2 separate regions of the Homo sapiens genome follow, and region 1 is linked to region 2. The links come from fine-mapping of genetic effects on gene expression. Tissue or cell type: whole blood. Region 2 holds a variant in brackets; the other region holds the start of a gene. All regions are shown on one strand. Distances are between the middles of the regions.

Region 1 (11,772 bases), 84 kb before region 2:
TCCTGGATGGGGACATGCCAAATGGCATAATGCCAAAGCAAGTAGAAAGTTGGAGCTAGGCAGAAAACTGGGGGGTGGTGTGAAGGAGGAGCACAGGGCACTACTCTTAGAACATAATATTAAATGAATGCAACATTGATGATTCTCAGCATAACAATATAGATTGTTACCTCTAGAATAACCACAAATAAAATAACAAAAAGAATATAGCTAAAGAACCATTAGAAGCACAAACTGGAAGTCTAAACATTTTTGACTAAAGCAAATAAAAAAAGGAAAGTATAAATGGAGGAGAAAGGTAAAAATGAAAAATAAAAAATACAAAGAAAAATGATAGACTTATACCCTTCATATTAATAACTATGTTACATGGAAATTGAATAAATATTTTTATAACAAATCAAAGATTGTCAGACTGGAAAAAATGCAAATTCAACAATATATTGTATACAAGAGATAGAGCTATAAAGGCATAGATAGCTTAAATGTAAAGGCAAGGAAATGGATCTAGTAGAAACAACAGGCATAATACATCTAATCTAAGATTATTAATATCAGGCAAATATTCTTCACCACCAAGTATAACCAGAGATAAAAAGGTCAACATTGCATAATGATAAAAGTGTTGATTCATCAGGAAATCATAATAATTCTAGATGTGTATGAGCCTAGTAACAGACCTTCAAAATATATAATGAAAGAATTAACACAACTAAAGAAAATATAGTTTGAAGTTGGATACCGTGATGCCTCTAGCTCTGTTCTTTTTATTTAGGATTGTCTTGGCTATATGAGCTCTTTTTTGGTTCCATATAAACTTTACAGTAGTTTTCTCTAATTCTGTGAAGACTGTCGATGGTAGTTTAATAGGAATAGCATTGAGTTTGTAAATTACTTTGGGCAATATGGCCATTTTCAGGATATTGATATTTCCTATTCATGAGCATGGAGAATGTTTTTCCATTTGTTTGTGTCCTCTCTGATTTCCTTGAGCAGTGGTTTGTAGTTCTCCTTGAAGAGGTCCTTCACATCCCTTGTTAGCTGTATATCTAGGTATTTTATTCTCTTCGTAGCAATTGTGAATGGAAGTTCATTCATGATTTAGCTTTCTGCTTGTCTATTGTTGGTGTATAAAATTGCTTGTGATTTTTGCACATTGATGTTGTATCCTGAGACTTTTCTGATGTTGTTTAGCAGCTTAAGAAGCTTTTGGGCTGAGACAATGGGGTTTTCTAGCTACAGGATCATGTCATCTGCAAACAGAGACAGTTTGACTTCTCTCTTCCTATTTGAATACCCTTTATTTTTTTCTTTTGCCTGATTGCCCAGGCCATATCTTCCAATACCATGCTGAACAGGAGTGGTGAGAGAGGGCATCCTTGTCTTGTTCCCTTGTGTGTGTAACTTTAAACTATACTACAAGGCTACAGTAACCAAAGAAGCACGGTGTTGGTACAAAAACAGACACATAGACCAATGGAACAGATAGAGAACTCAGAAATAAGACCACACATCTACAACCATCTGATTTTTGACAAACAGGAAAAAAACAAGCAATGGGGAAAGGATTCCCTATTTAATAAACAGCGCTGGAAAAACTGACTAGCCATATGTAGAAAACTGAAACTAGACCCCGACCTTATACCTTATACAAAAAATAATTCAAGATGCATTAAAGACTTAAATGTAAAACCCAAAACTATAAAAACCCTAGAAGAAAATCTAGGCAGTACCATTCAGGACATAGACATGGGCAAAGATTTCATGACAAAAGATCAAAAGCAATTGCAACAAAAGCAAAAATTGAAAAATGAGACCTAATTAAACTAAAGAGCTTCTGCATAGCAAAAGAAACTATCATGAGTGAAAAGATAACCTACAGAATGGGAGACAATTTTTGCAGTCTATCCATCTGACAAAGGTCTAATATCTACAATCTACAGGGAACTTAAACAGATTTACAAGAGAAAAACAACCCCATTAAAAAGTGGGCAAAAGACACGAACAGGGACATCTCAAAAGAAGACATCTATGTGGCCAAGAAACATATGAAAAAAAGTTCAACATCACTGATCATTAGAGAAATGCAAACAAAACCTATAATGAGATACCATTTCACACCAGTCAGAATGGCAATTATTAAAAAGTCAAGAAACAACAGATGCTGGTGAGACTGTGGAGAAATAGGAACACTTTTACACTGTTGGTGGAAATGTAAATTAGTTCAACCATTGTGGAAGACAGTGTGGCAATTCCTTAAAGACCTAGAAGCAGAACTGCAGAACCACCATTCCACTCAGCAATCCCATTGCTTGGTATATACCCAAAGGAATACAAATCATTCTATTATAAAGATACATGCATGCGCATGTTCATTGCAGCACTATGCACCATAGCAAAGACATAGAATCAACCCAAATGCCCATCAATGATAGACTGGATAAAGAAAATGTGGTACATATACACCATGGAATACTATGCAGCCATAAAAAGGAATGAGATCATGTCCTTTGCAGGAACGTGAATGGAGCCAGAAGCCATTACCCTCGGCAAACTAATGTAAGAACAGAAAACCAAACACTGAATATTCTCACTTATAAGTGGGAGCTGAACAATGAGAACACATGGACACAGGGAGGGGAACAACATACACAGGGACCTGCTAGGGGAGGATTTGGAGAGGGAGAGCATCAGGATAAATAACTAATGCATGCTGGGCTTAATATCTAAGGGATGGGTTGATAGGTGCAGCAAACCAGCATGGCACAAGTTTACCTGTGTAACAAACCCACATATTCTGCAAATGTATCCTGGAACCTAAAATTTAAAAAAAATTAATTTTTTTTAAAAAAAGAAAATATAAACAAATGCACAAGCATAGTTGGAGATTTAACACCTTTCTTTCAATAAGTGATAGAATATGCTTAAAAATGTTGGTAAGGATCACTATGGCATATGTATACCTAAGTAACAAATCTGCACATTCTGCACATGTATCCTAGAACTTAAAGTAAAATGAAAAAATAAAATAAATAAATAAAATGTTTTTAAAAGCAAAAAAAAAAAACTGTCATAAGATATAGACTATAATCAACATTTAGAGCATACTGCATTCCATAATTTCAGAATACACATTTTTTTTCCAAATACACTGAGAACAGTCATAAAGATAAACCATATGTTGGGTTATAATATATGTGTCAATAATTTTCAATAAAATTTGAAATATTACAATATATATTTTCTAACTACAATGGAATTAAAAGTCAATAACTGTAAGATATTAGACAACTCTCAAATACTTGGAAACACAGAAACATAATTCTAAATATGTAACCAAAAAAGAGCCCATATAGCCAAGAAAATCCTAAGCAAAAAGAACAAAGAGGGGCATCATGTTACCTGACTTCAATCTATACTACAGTAACCAAAACAGCATGGTACTGGTACCAAAACAGATATATAGACCAGTGGAACAGAACTGAGGCCTCACAAATAACACCACACACCTACAACCATCTGATCTTTGACAAACCTGACAAAAACAAGCAATGGGGAAAGGATTCCCTATTTAATAAATGGTGTTGGGAAAACTGGCTAGCTATATGCAGGAAACTGAAACTGGACCCCTTCCTTATACCTTATATAAATATTAACTCAAGATGAATGAAAGACTTAAACGTAAGACCTAAAACCATAAAATCCCTAGAAGAAAACCTAGGCAATATCATTCGGGACATAAGCATGGGCAGAGACTTATAACTAAAATTCCAAAAGCAGTTGCAACAAAAGCCAAAATTGACAAATGGGATCTAATTAAACTGAAGAGCTTCTGTATAGCTGAAGAAATTATCATTAGAGTAAACAGGCAACCTACAGAATGGGAGAAACCTTTTGCAATCTATCCATCTGACAAAGGGCTAATATCCAGAATCTACAAGGAACTTAAACAAATTTACAAGAAAAAAACAAACAACCGCATCAAAAAGTGGGTGAAGGATATGAACAGACACTTTTCAAAAGAATACATTTATGCGTCCAATAAGCATATAAAAAAAGCTCATTATCACTGGTCATTACAGAAATGCAAATCAAAACCACAATGAGATACCATCTCATGCTAGTTAGAATGGTGATCATTAAAAAGGCAGGAAACAACAGATGCTGGAGAGGATGTGGAGAAATAGGAATGCTTTTACACTGTTGGTGGGAGTGTCAATTAGTTCAACCATTGTAGAAGACAGTGTGGTGATTCCTCAAGGATCTAGAACCAGAAACGCCATTTGACCCAGGAATTCCATTACTGGGTATATGCCCAAAGGATTATAAATCATGCTACTATAAAGACACATGCCAACGTATGTTTATTGCAGCACTATTCACAATAGCAAAGACTTGGAACCAACCCAAATGCCCATCAATAATAGACTGGATAAAGAAAATGTGGCACATATACACCATAGAATACTATGCAGCCAATTATATTTCAATTTGCTAGAAATGTAAGTCAATAATATATGTCTTTATATGGTAAAGAAATAAGCATATAACATACATCTGGAAGTTTTAATTTTACATTAAGCTATTTACTTCTTGTTGTATAATATCTTACATATGTGAGAATATTCAATGCATTTGCTGTACAAATGCATTGCTGTACATCTTTATGTAATGAAAATGGACTCAAGTACATTCACCACTTTTATTTAAATCTTACAGCATTTATTTATATATTTATTAATATATAATCATAACTCTTTCTTTTTAGTCTAAAACTAATTTTTTTTTTTTTTTTTTTTTGAGATGGAGTCCCACTCAGTTGCCCAGGCTGGAGTGCAATGATGCAATCTCGGCTCACTGCAACCTCTGCCTCCCGGGCTCAAGCAATTCTCCTGCCTCAGGCTCCTGAGTAGCTGGGATTACAGGTGCCTGCCACCATGCCTGCCTAATTTTTGTATTTTTAGTAGAGACGGGGTTTCACCATGTTGGCCAGGCTGGTCTGGAACTCCTGACCTCAGGCAATCCGTCCACCTCAGCTTCCCAAAGTGCTGGGATTACAGGCATGAACCACCACACCTGGCCAAACCAAATATTTTTAAAAGATTAAAGAAAATGGGGACTCTGAGTCATACAAATCAAGAAAGTTTTATAGAGAGTTATTCACATTTAGCAAGCTTTCAGAAGAATTTGGATATTCAGCAGGTCAAGAGTGTAAAATTATTTGTAATTGGAATGGGTTTCTTTTATTCCAACAATTGCATCACAGTACGATGAACATTTTAATTGAATCTCAAGGCACTTGTCCAGAGGTACTCTTTTTTTTTTTCTTTTTTCTTACTACAACCGTATCTATCAGACAAGATAAACCCTTCTGGGTTTTGGTTTAATATGGAAGGAAAAAGAGTTTCACTATTTTAAAGCCACACACATAAGTAATCTGGTTAAGTGTATTAATATAATCTCATTTAACTCTACCTTTATTTCTGGGAGAGGAACTGGAGACCAGAAAATGATTTAGGAGGACGGAAAATAAAATTACATTTTGGATTCAATTCCTGGCCATAATATTCTGTGAGATTTCAGAAAGCCTTCTGGTTAGTCTATTTATACTTGTCTCAGTTTTTTTTTTTTTTTTTTTTTTGTATGCTACTTTCTTTCTCAAGGGCTTTTGGAAAAAGATATGATGGGGCTGGCCTAGAGGAAGGTGACTTTTATGTGAGCAAGAGAAAAATTAAATTGGAGGTTGCATAATTTTTTGAAGGAATTTTAGATTTAGTTCACCACAATATTAAAAAATGATGGCTGCAGGCACTTAGATTTGTTGAATGGTTGAATAAATCTAGCCTTTCCTAGCCTGTGTTTCATTGTCCATAGGCTGTGGATAATACTCTTAGTGGGTTTTGTAAGGATTACATGAGTATAATTTATAAAGCATTTAATATTTGAATACTTTTCCAATAAGTAACATCTTAATATTTCATTCCCATTTTGTAGATGTGAAAATTGAGTACCCGAACATAGGCTCCTAAATCCTAATTGTCAGTCACGTTTTTGCAATCTTTCCTAAATTTATTAATCTCTGGTTAATGTTAATATAAAACGATTTTTTTTTCTTTTTTGCTGTTTGAATGGGCAATTAATTGATTGTTTACACAGACAGTGCGCCCTTCCACTTAGGGACGCTCCTTAGGGATGATCCTGTGAATTGGGGAGTGTGTGTGTGTGAGATGGGAGGGTTCAATAATCAAAATAACATATTTTTCCGTTTTATATTAACTAAACAAGTCACAGTCTTTATTTTTAATTTCTACAGTCACCTCGTGAGACAGGTATTAGAACTCCGGAGTGGCATCAAAATGAGGGAAAGGCCTCAGGGCCAGCGCCTTTGCGTCCTGGACCGGCGTACAGACGGGAGAAAGGCCGACCAATCCGAGAGCAGGCTGAGGCCTGGTCCCGCCCCTGGGGGCAGAGCCTCGCCTCTTTTCCGCCTCACCCTTTGGGAGTAGGGGTGTGCGGCTGGCTTGTCCCGCCCCTGCCCCTGAGTGACAGAACCGTGGACAGCAACATTTCCCACAGGACACGAAGTTTGTCGGCCCTTGCCTTGGCAGAGCTGAGGTGTGTGTCCGGCGAGTGCGAGGGGATTGGGGAGACCCTGCCCGGGAAGCTCGGGGTCCGGGAATGAAAGCGGGCGCACCTCTTTAGCGAGCCCTAAAGCGTTTGGGAGACGATCGTTCCGTCCCTGGGAGCGGCACTTGGTGGGGCTGGGCGGAGGGAGGCTCTGCAAGAGAAACCCGGAGTCCGGGAAACCCAGTAGGTACGGTGATCACTGAAGGACCCGTTCCCGTTGAGTAGGGCGCTGGCTGCGGGATGGGGGATGGAGGGTGCTGGGTTCGGTGGGCGTGGCCATTGCGGTTGCTAAGGAACGCGCGGTTCCCGCCCTGCCAGCGTGTCTGGCGCCAGCCGCTGGGCCCTGGACACGTTAGTCCCGCCCACCTCCCAAGGTCTTCCACGCGGCTCGGGATTGGCTCCTTTGTGCTGACCGATTACTCGCGGTCGCTTACTTGTCAGTGCAGCTCTCTGGGTTCTGCCGTTCCCTTTTGGGGCCCCCTTTCCCATGGTACTCCTCTTCACTCTTTTTCCTGCTTCCTCTTATTAATGAACGAGTATTTGCATACCAAAACATTTGCAGAGAAGAGATTCAGACAGGATTAGGTGGCTTTATCGGTGGTGGTGAGGTTGTGGGGCGGGGGTATTTTTCTTGGAGCTTGGTGTATTCCTGAATCCATCAGATGTTGGTGTCCGCGTGGATGACTAGGAAAAGGGGATTGGAGATTAGGTTTCTTCTACTTGGAGTTCTCTGCTGCTTGTTTGAGCTTAATAAGCCTCCTGAAGAAGTTGAAGCAATTTATTGCTAGAGGAGCCCCAATGTATAATCTCCCTTTCATTCTCTACTGTGGAGAGGTGTGCTAAACCTGTAGAGCTGTTTTTGCTTCACTCGGCTCATACTTAATGATCAACAAGTATGGTGTGAGATGGTAACCTCAGATAACCATTTTAAATCTGCCTTTGTTTGCTCATATACTCTGTCTCCTAATGATTCAGCACAACAAACATTCCAGAGAGAAAAAACAAAAGAGGTAAAAATCTTTTATTTTCCTCTGGCAGGTTTACAGTGCAAACCCCCAGGAAGGAAGCTTGTGCTGCTTGTTAACATTGGGAGGAGCATTGGCCTACAAGTCAGGAAACTGGCATGGTTAAGAAATGTTTGTCCTTGGGCAATAATTGTTTCGTTATCTGTAAATTGGAGACTCTAGGATATGCCCTTCCTTCCTAAAAAAGGAGGAATAATTGGTTGTGAAAGTATCATTAAAGTAATGATCCACACAAATGTAAAGCATTATTGATTACACTTTTAATCTTTTTGTGTATATGATCCAAATTTATAAACACGTATAAGTATTGCCATTCAGCTTTAAGTATTTTCAAATTTCCCTTGTGATTTTTTTTTTTTTTAATCTTAGGGTTATTTAGAAATGGGGAAGAAATTAACTCATCTATTCATTATTGATTCTGTGTTGGTTCTGGTTAGGTAGAACCTGTAATGTCTTGAATGACACCTTTTCCTCTTTAATATCACTAGATATATATATATATATAGATATATATATATACCTGAAAAGATTGGGAAACATTACCTTTTAATGCGAGGATGACTAACCTTTTTGGTGTCATTTACCACTTTGAGAAACCAAGGAAAGCTATTGACTTGCTCCTCAGAAAAATGCACAATTTTAAGCCTAAATGGACCCTGTTTTTGTTCAACTTCTTTAGGGATAAGGAAATTATTCTCTCCCACTTGCCTCATCCTACAGAGAGACTAAGTAACTTTTACCCAAGGCTACATAGCTGGGAGCAGAGTGGGGCTTTTGCCTTTCTTCCACAGTGCCTCTTACCATAACATACCTTTGTTCAAGGCCTTCAGTCATCTGCAGTTCCCTTTTGGGGCCCCCTTTCCCATTGTACTTTTTTGTTTTTTTGAGCACTAACAAACGGGAACTACTAATGTTCAGTTATTTGTTGCTATCTTACAAAACCATGTAATCTATGTTTTATCCCAAATGCCCTTTGATCATAACCTCTTAAAGCATATTCTGGTATTTAAACAAGTAAAAAGAACATTGTCAAATATTTTGAGAAAAATGTGAAACTGTATTTTTTTTTTTTTTTTGAGACGGAGTTTCACTCTTGTTGCCCAGGCTGGAGTGCAATGGCGCTATCTCAGCTCACCACAACCTCTGCCTTCCTGGTTCAAGCAATTCTCCTGCCTCAGCCTCCCGAGTAGCTGGGATTACAGGAGTGCACCACCACACCTGGCTAATTTTGTATTTTTAGTACAGACGGGGTTTCTTCATGTTGGTCAGGCTGGTCTCGAACTCCCAACCTCAGGTGATCCGCCCGCCTCGGCCTCCCAAAGTGTTGAGATTACAGGGGTGAGCCACCGCGTCTGGCCAAAATTGTACTTTTGAGATGAACATTAAATCCATAAACTTTCTCATCTATCGAGGTCCGTTTTGGACAAAGAAAAGCTGATTATTTTTAGTACATGCCACTGGAATATCATTACTTGATACTTAGAACTGTTTTTTTTTTTTTAAACTTAAGTGAATAATCTTTTATAACATTTTAATTTGTGGCTAAAAAGAATTGTGGTTGTTTTCACTGTGGCTCTTTTCCTGATTTCTATATTCATATAGAAATCTGTAAATAGAGTTCATTATTTTCTTTGGTCTGATTCCCTATCTAGCTTTATCAATAAAAGTGGATATCAGTAGTAGATATAAAAAGTTGTTATTGGATAAGGAAAAACTTGAAGAGGTAAAGAGCTATTGCTTTTGTAAAACGCATAAATGTATATATGCACCTGTTATTTCGTTAGTACTTGTAATTTTATTTGAACTGTTTGGTACTTGACTCTTTCTTTATTCAACTCTGTTCATTTCTGGTAGAGAAACAGGGATAAAGACAAATGGCTTAGAGAGAGCATTACAATGGATTTAGAGATTTTTAGGGGCTCAATAATAGCTCTTTCCTTCCTCTCTTGCGTTTGTAAACAGACATGTGGCGCCTGCCATATCAACTTCAACTTGCAATAACAAGTCGAGTGGGGATAGTGCTTTATGCAAAAATGAGACCAAAAATGAGTACTAGTACTTCCTATCCCCTTTTACTCCTACTCTCTTTCCCAGAACCTAGACTTTAGTTCAGCTGAGAGAAAAATTTCAGATTGCGGAACAGATACGCTTACTTACAATTACTGCTTTTCATGGTGTAGGGCAGAGGTCTAATAAAAGATGGAAAATCTCCAGTGCTTAGTGGTTTATAATGGGTTAGCTCTACCGGTGGAGTAATGTGAACCGGTCAGATACGTCTCTTTTTGGTAAGCTGTGAAGAAGAAGTGGGATCTGAGGCCAGGACTGTTAATCTAGTGCTCTGGTTTTCCATTTCCAGAATGGTTTTCCATTCTGGGTGACACCTCTGGGGTATTTGAAATATGCCAGGGTGTTTTAAAATTATTCTAATTTCTTTAAAGGAAGTACTACTGGCTTTTGGGATCCTGAAGTTCAGAGATGATAAATATTGTGTAATGTAGAGATCTATCAGCTCAATAAAGAATTTCTTTGTCTCACTCCAATGCCAAAGCATCTTTTGAGAGTCCCTGCTCCAGTGGACATTCTTCTATGTAGAAACGCGAAACTCAGCCAGCTTTCTCCTTAATCTTTGTGCATATGTATCTGTGTTTTTGATATCAGTAGATTTGACTCAAAGTGTTAATGTCTTAAACAATATTACTTAGAATTTTGTGGTTTTTTGGTATTCATCCAGAGTGACTAAAATAATACTAATGGAAAATAGTGATACATATTTGATCATATTTGATATTCTCAAATTTCCTATTAAACAGATAAGGATCATGTAGGCCTAGAGCTAATTTTTCATACCATTATATATATTTATACCTTTTTTATATGGTAGAAATGTTCAGCATCTTTGCAACAATAGAGTGAGATAGGTGTATGTTTCCATGAAAAATAAATGATTCCTACTTAATTCGTAATTTTGAAATGTTAAACAATAAAAAGGTAAATACTCCATATTCAGTGGTTTAACAGTTTTTTTGACTCAAAAGGCAAAGACAGTTCCATTAATGAAAGACTCTTGTCAGTCACATGACTTTTAAGCCACTGAAGTGGAGAATGACAACAGCATAAACTAGCTTAGTTCTTCTGTAGTAGTATTATTTAGTGACGTAGTTGCAAAAATAACAGACCAATTGTATTGAACAATTTAAAAGTTTGACAATGACAAAAGAAAGATAGGTTAATCCAAATAACATTTGTTTTACATACTTTGAATGTTAAAATATTCAAATATTGCAGGGTATGGAATAATGAACTATATGGATACCTGTGGCAAAGTCCTAATTGTGGATTATAGTTTATTACCTATAGCAGGTGGAAGGTGCACTGTATTGAAAGTTTTAGACTTAGCTCTGTAGGTAGAAATATCCTTTGTTGGGTATTAATAACTTTCCAGTCAAGTTAATTATCTATGTGGAAAAGGTTGAAGATTTTTCTTTTTTTTGAACAACATGCTTGAGCATTATAATACGTTGCCGTCATTCACAGTGACTCAGTATATAGTACTGAATCTCTCTGGGCAGAGGAGGTATATCAGATTTTTTTTTTCAGGATGGGAAGGTACAGTTTTAAAAAGAACCTCCCAGTTTCCGATTCTGCTTTGTCTGCATTCCTAGGGAGTTCATTTTCTGCCTCCCCTCAACACCGTCCCCTTTATCGATAAATGGAAAACACTGGCTTATGTAGAAATTATCTATACAGTTTTTTCAGTGCTAAAATATTCTGGATAAATTAACATTTGAAAATAAATCAAGTGAAACAAGACATCCTACAAAATCAAGGCAGAGGTTATCAGTAGAAAACTCAGAGGCATACCTATGAATCTCTAAAAATAATTTTAAGCTAAGGAAGGAAGAACATTTCGGGGAGTTATTTGCCGTCCAACACATTCAAGAATACATGGCTTCTATGGATAGGAGAACTTCATGTAAAAATAACAGACAGTGATGAAGTGTCAGAGAGAAGATAGTAAGAGAAAACAAAATGATGAGAAACTGAAAATATGAGAGCCGTATCAGTTTTGTTCCTCTTATAACACATTACCCCACATTTAGTGACTTAAAATAACACAAAT
Region 2 (7,299 bases):
TACTTGCAGCTATATTGGCACTACTACTGGCTTTCTATGCTTTCTTTTATCTCAGACTCACCACGGATGTTGACCCTGATCTGGACCAAGATGAAGATTAGCTAAGCAACAATCAATGCATGAAAGAGAAATAACTTTACGAAAGCACCTTTTGGGACCAAAACTTTCAATACTGAAACTGTAACATCTTTAATTCTTTCTGCTAATATTTTCAGTTTGCAGACATATGATTTTTGATAGTTGCATAGGATGTCAGGAAAAGAACCTTACCTAGCAATGCAGTATAGTATGTGCTACTGGATACTTTTATATATCTTTCTGCTTTGACAGCCACCCTATACATGGTACATTTAGATGAAATGGGAACCAGATCCTAAATTTTTCAAATGTCATTGCCAATTTATGTGTATAATTCCATCACTTCCTGATGAGTAAGTCTATTTTTGTTCTATATACATCATAAGTTAGTATATATTCTTATTTACAGAAACATGCTCAAATCACATTCAGAAAGAACAAAAAGTCATGGGAAATTTTTTATTTTACAACAAAGCCCTGCTTTCTTTCTGGACGTATTTTACATCATTAGAGAGACTATCTGCACATACATCTACCATAATCTTTTTCCTTCTTTGCCAACTGTTCAGTGCACATGTGCTGCATCAGAAATGGCACCTGGATGACAGAAGCTCAAAGAGTCACATATGTCTCTAAAATAGAGTTCTTTTCCTCTTGGGCTGTCTGAACTGGTGTAAATAGAAGCTCAGTTGATCTTGGTTTTAATTAACTTATTACTCTATTAATATAACCTTGGAATTCTATTCTAATTATGTTGTTCTGGCTGCTTGTAGTATCAGTTCGCCCCTCTTGTTAGGGAGATATGTAACAATCTGTCATTTAATTGAGCAGTCTTTTTCACATAACAGTAATAGCAAAAATCCTACCTACTCAGAATCATCTTCTTAGGTTGTCTCCTAAATCTGAACAATACAGTTGTTTTATAAAATTACATTTTGTCTCTTGAGATTTAATCAATTAGAACTCTTTAGGGAGAAAATAAATAATAGAAGAAAATATATGCCTCATATTTCATATGTAATTATCTGTTGATATAATTTTTCAATGTATTTTGTATTTGTGGGAGCATAATGACCTGTACATTCAATATTTTTACTGGTAATTCAATTTTTAAATATGTTTTTACAATGCTTGAACACATAAACCTTAGAAAACTGGAAAATACGTGTCCACAGAAAGAGTTATTAGCTACTACCTTATGTAAAGATGCATAGAAAATGAAATTGTTGGAAACATGTGCACAAAGTGTTTTATATTATATACATTGTATTTATGAAGAATAAATAAAATATTAAGATTGTTTTCCTGCTAGCCAAGAGAAGAAATCCTTGGGAAATATCTAAGGAGTATATGGGGCTTTATAAGCACTGTTTCTAAAAGATATTCTCTGGTACTTTTGCAAAAAGTCGACTGTGACTGTGTAGCATTATGTTCTGTAGAATTTTTTTCAAGTAGCATAATTTATTTCATTGGTGTGAAAACAGCCAAAGGTTCCAATATCCTCACAAATCATTTATGCCAAACATCTGAGGGCAAAATTTAGCCGGTGTTATTTACTAGATTCTTCCCTTTGAACTCACAGACTCAAGAGACAGACCAAGAGTTCTTATATACTCACCACAGCGGACCAATCCAAGTGGCATTTTTAGGAAAGGTTGCAGCATTTAATGCCATGTGGTATGTCTGTTCGTCAAGTGGGTGGCAAGGGAATATCCAAGCTGGCATTTTGGATATGATGGGCCTTTTACTTTCCTGAGTGACATGCCACATGTCAAGAAATACTGCTCCCCACCCCCCCACTCCCATCACATTTACGTGAACAATTTTCATTTAGTTATTTCCCGTTCCATATGGTGTTAAAACAGTCGTATTAAATAAAGATTATTTCTAGTTTTCAGTGGTAATTTAAATGAGAGGATATGTAATAATTGCTTATTAGATACTTATCCAAATGAAATATAACAGAGTTTACAGTACTTAAAATGGCTGGTTATGGTCTTGGAAATGTTTGAAAATTCATTATCCTGAAAAAAACTTTACCATTCTGTTTTACCCTTGAGGTATTTTTTGGGGAAAAATGTTTTTGATAACTATTAATCTAAATATAGTATAATTATAGGCAAATTTCACTGCCTAGTTTTATTGATATCCTGAGTCTACAGCTAGTCCATTCGTATGACTGATTGATTTATGATAGCTCCAGAGAACCATAAATTTCAAAGGCTAAACTCTCTGATTTTAGTAAATAGTAGGTAAAGTGACACAATATATGTTTACACAACACTGTTTTCATGAAATGCAAACTTTGCAAAACTCACATTAACTGGGAAGCAGCCAACCCTCTGTAGAGAAATCCCAGATTGGGAGTCTGGTTTGAATCTTTGAAGACAGAAAGGTGATATCCGGCCTGCTGTTTTAAAGGGACCACACTTTTGAATACCTACTGGTGTTTGGCAGAAATCTGAGACTGGCACCAGACACAAATTTTAGACATGGGTATCTTCCCTCCAGTAATTCACTGCTCAGAGTAATTTAGAAGACAAAAACAGAAAAAATTGTAATGATTTTTTAAGTGTTAGAATATGTTTGTTAACATACTCTGCAAAATAAATTTCAACTAATGCAATAGACTTAAAATATAGCCTATGGAATACTGTGATTGAAGTTTGAAGGCTTGCTGGTTCTTATTTTGCATGCAAGTTTAGACAGGGTAAAGAATGTATAAATTTATTTGAGATGAGATACAGTATTGTAAAAATATAACCTCATCTAGAATTGCTTTTAAAACAAGCAAAAGCCTATTTTAGTACAAATGTAGGGTGGGTAGTTGTTTTAAGGTAGCAAAATACTTCAAGATTTTCTATCTTTTTAATTTTTCATGAAGACAGAAGAAATACTTTCACCCCAACCAATGACTGTAAGATCTTGAGAGTATGTTCTTACTCATTTCTGTAATTGCAGTAGTGTAGTCATCT[G/T]CATATAAATTTAATAAATGCATGTTAAAATTTAAGTTGATGCCTTTTAGTCCTCTCAGAGTCTGTCACAGTTTCTTTGTGTAAATGATAAAAAAGTTTGAATTTAATCAATAAAACTTAAAAATCACAATATCAATCAACTCGGCATTTACCATTTATGGTCCTTGGTTGTACTGAGATATATACGTGTTTCATCCTGATTCTCTTTAAATCAAGACAACTAGCATTAAGGTCGCTATAAAATAGAAACATTGCTCTTTTCTAGGGAATCAAATATGCTATTTTTATCTTAGAATTTATTAAAAACTATACTCAATGTTTGAATTCAACTTAGCATGCATTTTCACTCCAAATGAAAATAGAACTCAATTTTCATTATAATGTTTATGTGACTACTAAAACACTGTATTTTCCAGGTTCTAAAATTATATACTCAATGATAATTCAGTAGAGCAAATTGTGCTATACATCAGCGTCAGAAATATACTTCTAGAAATTAAACCCAGCCTATTTTAATGTATTTCATCCATAACATAAAGTTGTTGAGCCAGAGACTACCTAAGATAATTTTGTATTCTCTCCTCACCAACAATTAGACTTCTTTACACTTACCTGGGGCTTCTCTGGGAGATTCCTACCACTTCTCCCTTAGCAGCACTGCCTTCTTTTATTAGAATTGCTCCAATGCAGCCTGGATAGAATGCTGTTTGCTAGATTTTGTTCCACTTAAACCATATTTAGAATCAGTGCAACCCACGGTTAAAAAAAAAATGTAGCAGATGAATTCAACCTACAGGAACATTCTTACCATTTTGTTGATATTTTAGCTATAAAGGTAAGTAGAGAGGGAACTGGGAGAGTCATGTAAAGAACTATATCAGTATGGAAATATCCATAGTGGGTCAGTAATTGAGTTAAACAATTGAACTGTAGCCACATTCAGCATAGTGCCTCCTTGTTATACAGTTTTTCTATCCCTAGCAACAGATATGTGATTCTTATTTCAAGAAAAATAAGATACGTTACATGCCAGAAGATTTTTTGATGACAGTACTCCCTCCTATTCTTCATTTTTTAAAACAACAACCAAATTGGTGGGGAGGCAGCCAAAATTTGAGGTACCAATGCCTCTCGAACAGATGTCGCACCATTATTTTTTAGCTCGTTTAGATGAATAAACATGTTAAACTGTGAAGTATTACATTTTAGATTTTTTCATTAAAAAAAGAGACAATCTGTTTACTGTCCTAATTGAGACAACAATCCTTGTGGTTGCCAGTTTTGGCAGTCATAACAATGAACTATAAATATTTGGACCAATCAAGTAAATGGTGACTATGAAGGCTATAGCATGTGTAAAGTTCTGTTTTCATGGGCACCCATCTTAGTATGGCATTTTTTTCCCTGACTTCTTCAAATACAATTGTTTGTGTGAAACTGAAGTATCATGGTAAGCCTAAAAGAAATTGATTTCAATATCTAATTTCTTTCTAGCTTATCATCCTTTTTAGTGTTCAACTATCCATCTGCTTGTAACAAATTGCTTCTGCAATTACTCTGTTGAATGTGACAAGGCAGGTCTTCACTGGATTGCCTTCTAGGTATGTCCTAGGATAACACAAAATTCAGAGGGATTTTCTTTTCATGTTGATATAGTGAGATTGAAGATATCTTTAAAGTCTCTTAAATTGCAGCAATTTCTAAAATAAGATTTTATAAACAATGTTGGATATAATTCTTGCTGTAGTGGCCATGAGGTGGAGTTTATAATCTTAGCGCCTATTAGGATGCTTTACACTAAACAACAGTGTGGAAGTTGGTAAACTAAAGAGAAATACCCCATACATGAAAATCTTTTATGATGCTACCTCCCAAACATTTGTGATCCAGATAGGGAGTGCCCTTCTAGGTAGCTTAAGAGTGCTTTTGCTCCCTTCTCCAGCTCTTCAACTTCTACCCTATTTGCCTTAATTCTAAGTTCCAGGCAGTCTCTCTTCTTTCAGTTTTTTTTTTTTTTGAACCTCACTTCTACTTTAATAGGTTAGCACTCTCACGTACTTAACTATGTACTTACTGTGTTAACTACCTCTACCCTTTTATTTAGACTCGTCATTGATCCTCACCTGCTTTTCCCCTCTCTCTTACTTCTTGCTTGCTTTTTTTATCACTAACCACATGTATTACACAAAAGTAGAGAGAATAATGTAATAATCTCAATCTACCCATTACCTAGTTTCAATAATTATTAATGTATCCCCACTCTTTTGCATATTTTCACCATTTTTTTATACTGAGGTATTTTAAAGCAGACTTCAGATATGATGTCATTTTACTGTAAATATTTCAGTATGCATCTCTAACTGACAAGAATGTTGGGATTTTTGTTGGTTGGTTTTTTGTTTTGTTTTGTTTTTATATTACCAGAAAGCTATTGGTAGAATATATATATATTTCCTAATATAATCTAATACTGTCAATATTCAGATGTCCCTAATTGTTTCCAAGATGGCTATTTACAAGAGATTTTAAAATTAAGTCCATGCTGAATTTGGTTGCGTGTCTCTTAAATTTCTTTTATTCTGTAAAAAAATAATCCAGGCCATTGAATTGCTGAAGAAAACAGCAATTTTGTTTGCTGTTTATTTGTCCTTTCGAATGTCAAGTAATCTAGATTTAGTACTTTTCATTGTGTTAGTCATTTTATTCCTATATTTTTCTTATTTTCTATAACCCGATAATGAGATATTAAGCTAGATTAGGTCCAGTTTTTTATGACTGTGGTTTGTTAGTTCTTAAGCTGAGAGTATTTCGTAGTACTTAATGAGTTACATAATACTTGGTGGTCTCATTTGTGATGTTAGACTTATCAGTGAATTGATGTGCTAGTAATGTGATTTCCTGCAAAATAAGGTTTTTTCATCAACATCACCTTTCCTGGATGCATTATCTCATCAGGCATTGCAAAATGGTGATTTTCTTTCATTCCTTCAGCATATATTAAGTGGAATTATTATGTTTAAAAATAATCTTCTTTATCAACTATTTGATCATCTGAAAATACAGCTTATACAGGAGAGGAAGGATAAATACTTGAGTCTTTCCCTTTCTTAAATTTCAGATTAATGAATTAGCACTCTCTAATGGTGGCCAATGAAGATTTGCCATTGTTATTGCTGTTGCTGCTTTTATTATTATAATCTAGTTATATATTTTATATATATGATGTGTTTCAGCCCATTGCCATCATCATTCTTTTCAGTACTGAGATGAGAATTCAATTATCATGCTTAATATTAGAAGTATTCTCATTAAAATCATGAGTTTAATGCTTTTACATTGTTATACATTTTTCTGAAAGTGATAGCCAGTGTAATTCAGTTTTTAAGACAGCAGGAATAAATAATAAATATGGCAAAAAATGGAAAAAACTAAAATTTTAAGATTATGTGGTTGACTAGAAAACTAAGAAAATATTGTATAAGATTTATATAACATATTTCTTTAGATAATAAGTATGTAATAATCAATAGTTTTATTGTTCTCTATATTAACACAATAATTAGAATAATTAGTTAAATATCATAATAGAAAAACGTGTTTCACCATTGCAATTAAAATTATGGACTATGTAGAAAAAATGAGCAGAAATGTATGAGTGTTCATTGAAAAAAAAGCTCTACAAGATAACATAATGAAGTTTTAATTGAAAAGACACCAACTGTCTCCATGGATAGGAAGGTTCAACATTGTACAAATGTAAATTTTCCTCTATTTTGTAAACAGAAAAGGGAAACTTGATCTGCAATATATTAAAGTATATTATAAAGTTATAGTAACTAAAATAATGTCATAGTCAATGAAAAGTAGACAGATCAACAGAAAAAAATGCAGTGTCCAGAAACAGATCTAAATATAAATATTCATTTAATGCATTATGTATGTCATGCAGATGGAAAGATAGATTAATTAAATGTATTGGAACAATTTAGTATCCTTTTAGAAATTAAAAGATGCCTATATCATGACTTAAAACAAGATGAATTCTGGTGGAATTTATGATTTCTATATAAAAAATGAAACCATAAAAAGTATTAGAAGAAATTATAGGTAGACGTTTTTAGAATCATTTTGTAAGGAAAATTATTTCTAGGCGTTGATTCATGAGTTAGAAATCATAAAGGGAATACTGTTGGATTATAACACATTAAATTAAAATCTAACATGCAGCCTGGTACTCAGTGTTAAT

The links. PIP is the estimated chance that this variant, and not a neighbour inherited with it, causes the effect.
Region 1: it holds the start of TRIQK, and the variant in region 2 is fine-mapped to the expression of TRIQK in whole blood (INTERVAL, PIP 0.98).

The regions. Positions count from the first base shown.
Region 1 is chr8:92,960,850-92,972,621 of GRCh38, reverse strand. It overlaps TRIQK (triple QxxK/R motif containing), which reads left to right and starts at 6,478. Exons shown (of 5, transcript NM_001171797.2): 1 at 6,478-6,615. It also overlaps the pseudogene IRF5P1. RefSeq lists a silencer at 6,382-6,491 and an enhancer at 7,162-7,271.
Region 2 is chr8:92,879,424-92,886,722 of GRCh38, reverse strand. It overlaps TRIQK (triple QxxK/R motif containing), which reads left to right. Exons shown (of 5, transcript NM_001171797.2): 5 at 1-3,189. The coding sequence ends at 101. Among named protein-coding and RNA genes, the nearest start is that of TRIQK, 83 kb to the left of the region's middle. The variant G/T (reference allele first, on the strand shown) is at 3,054.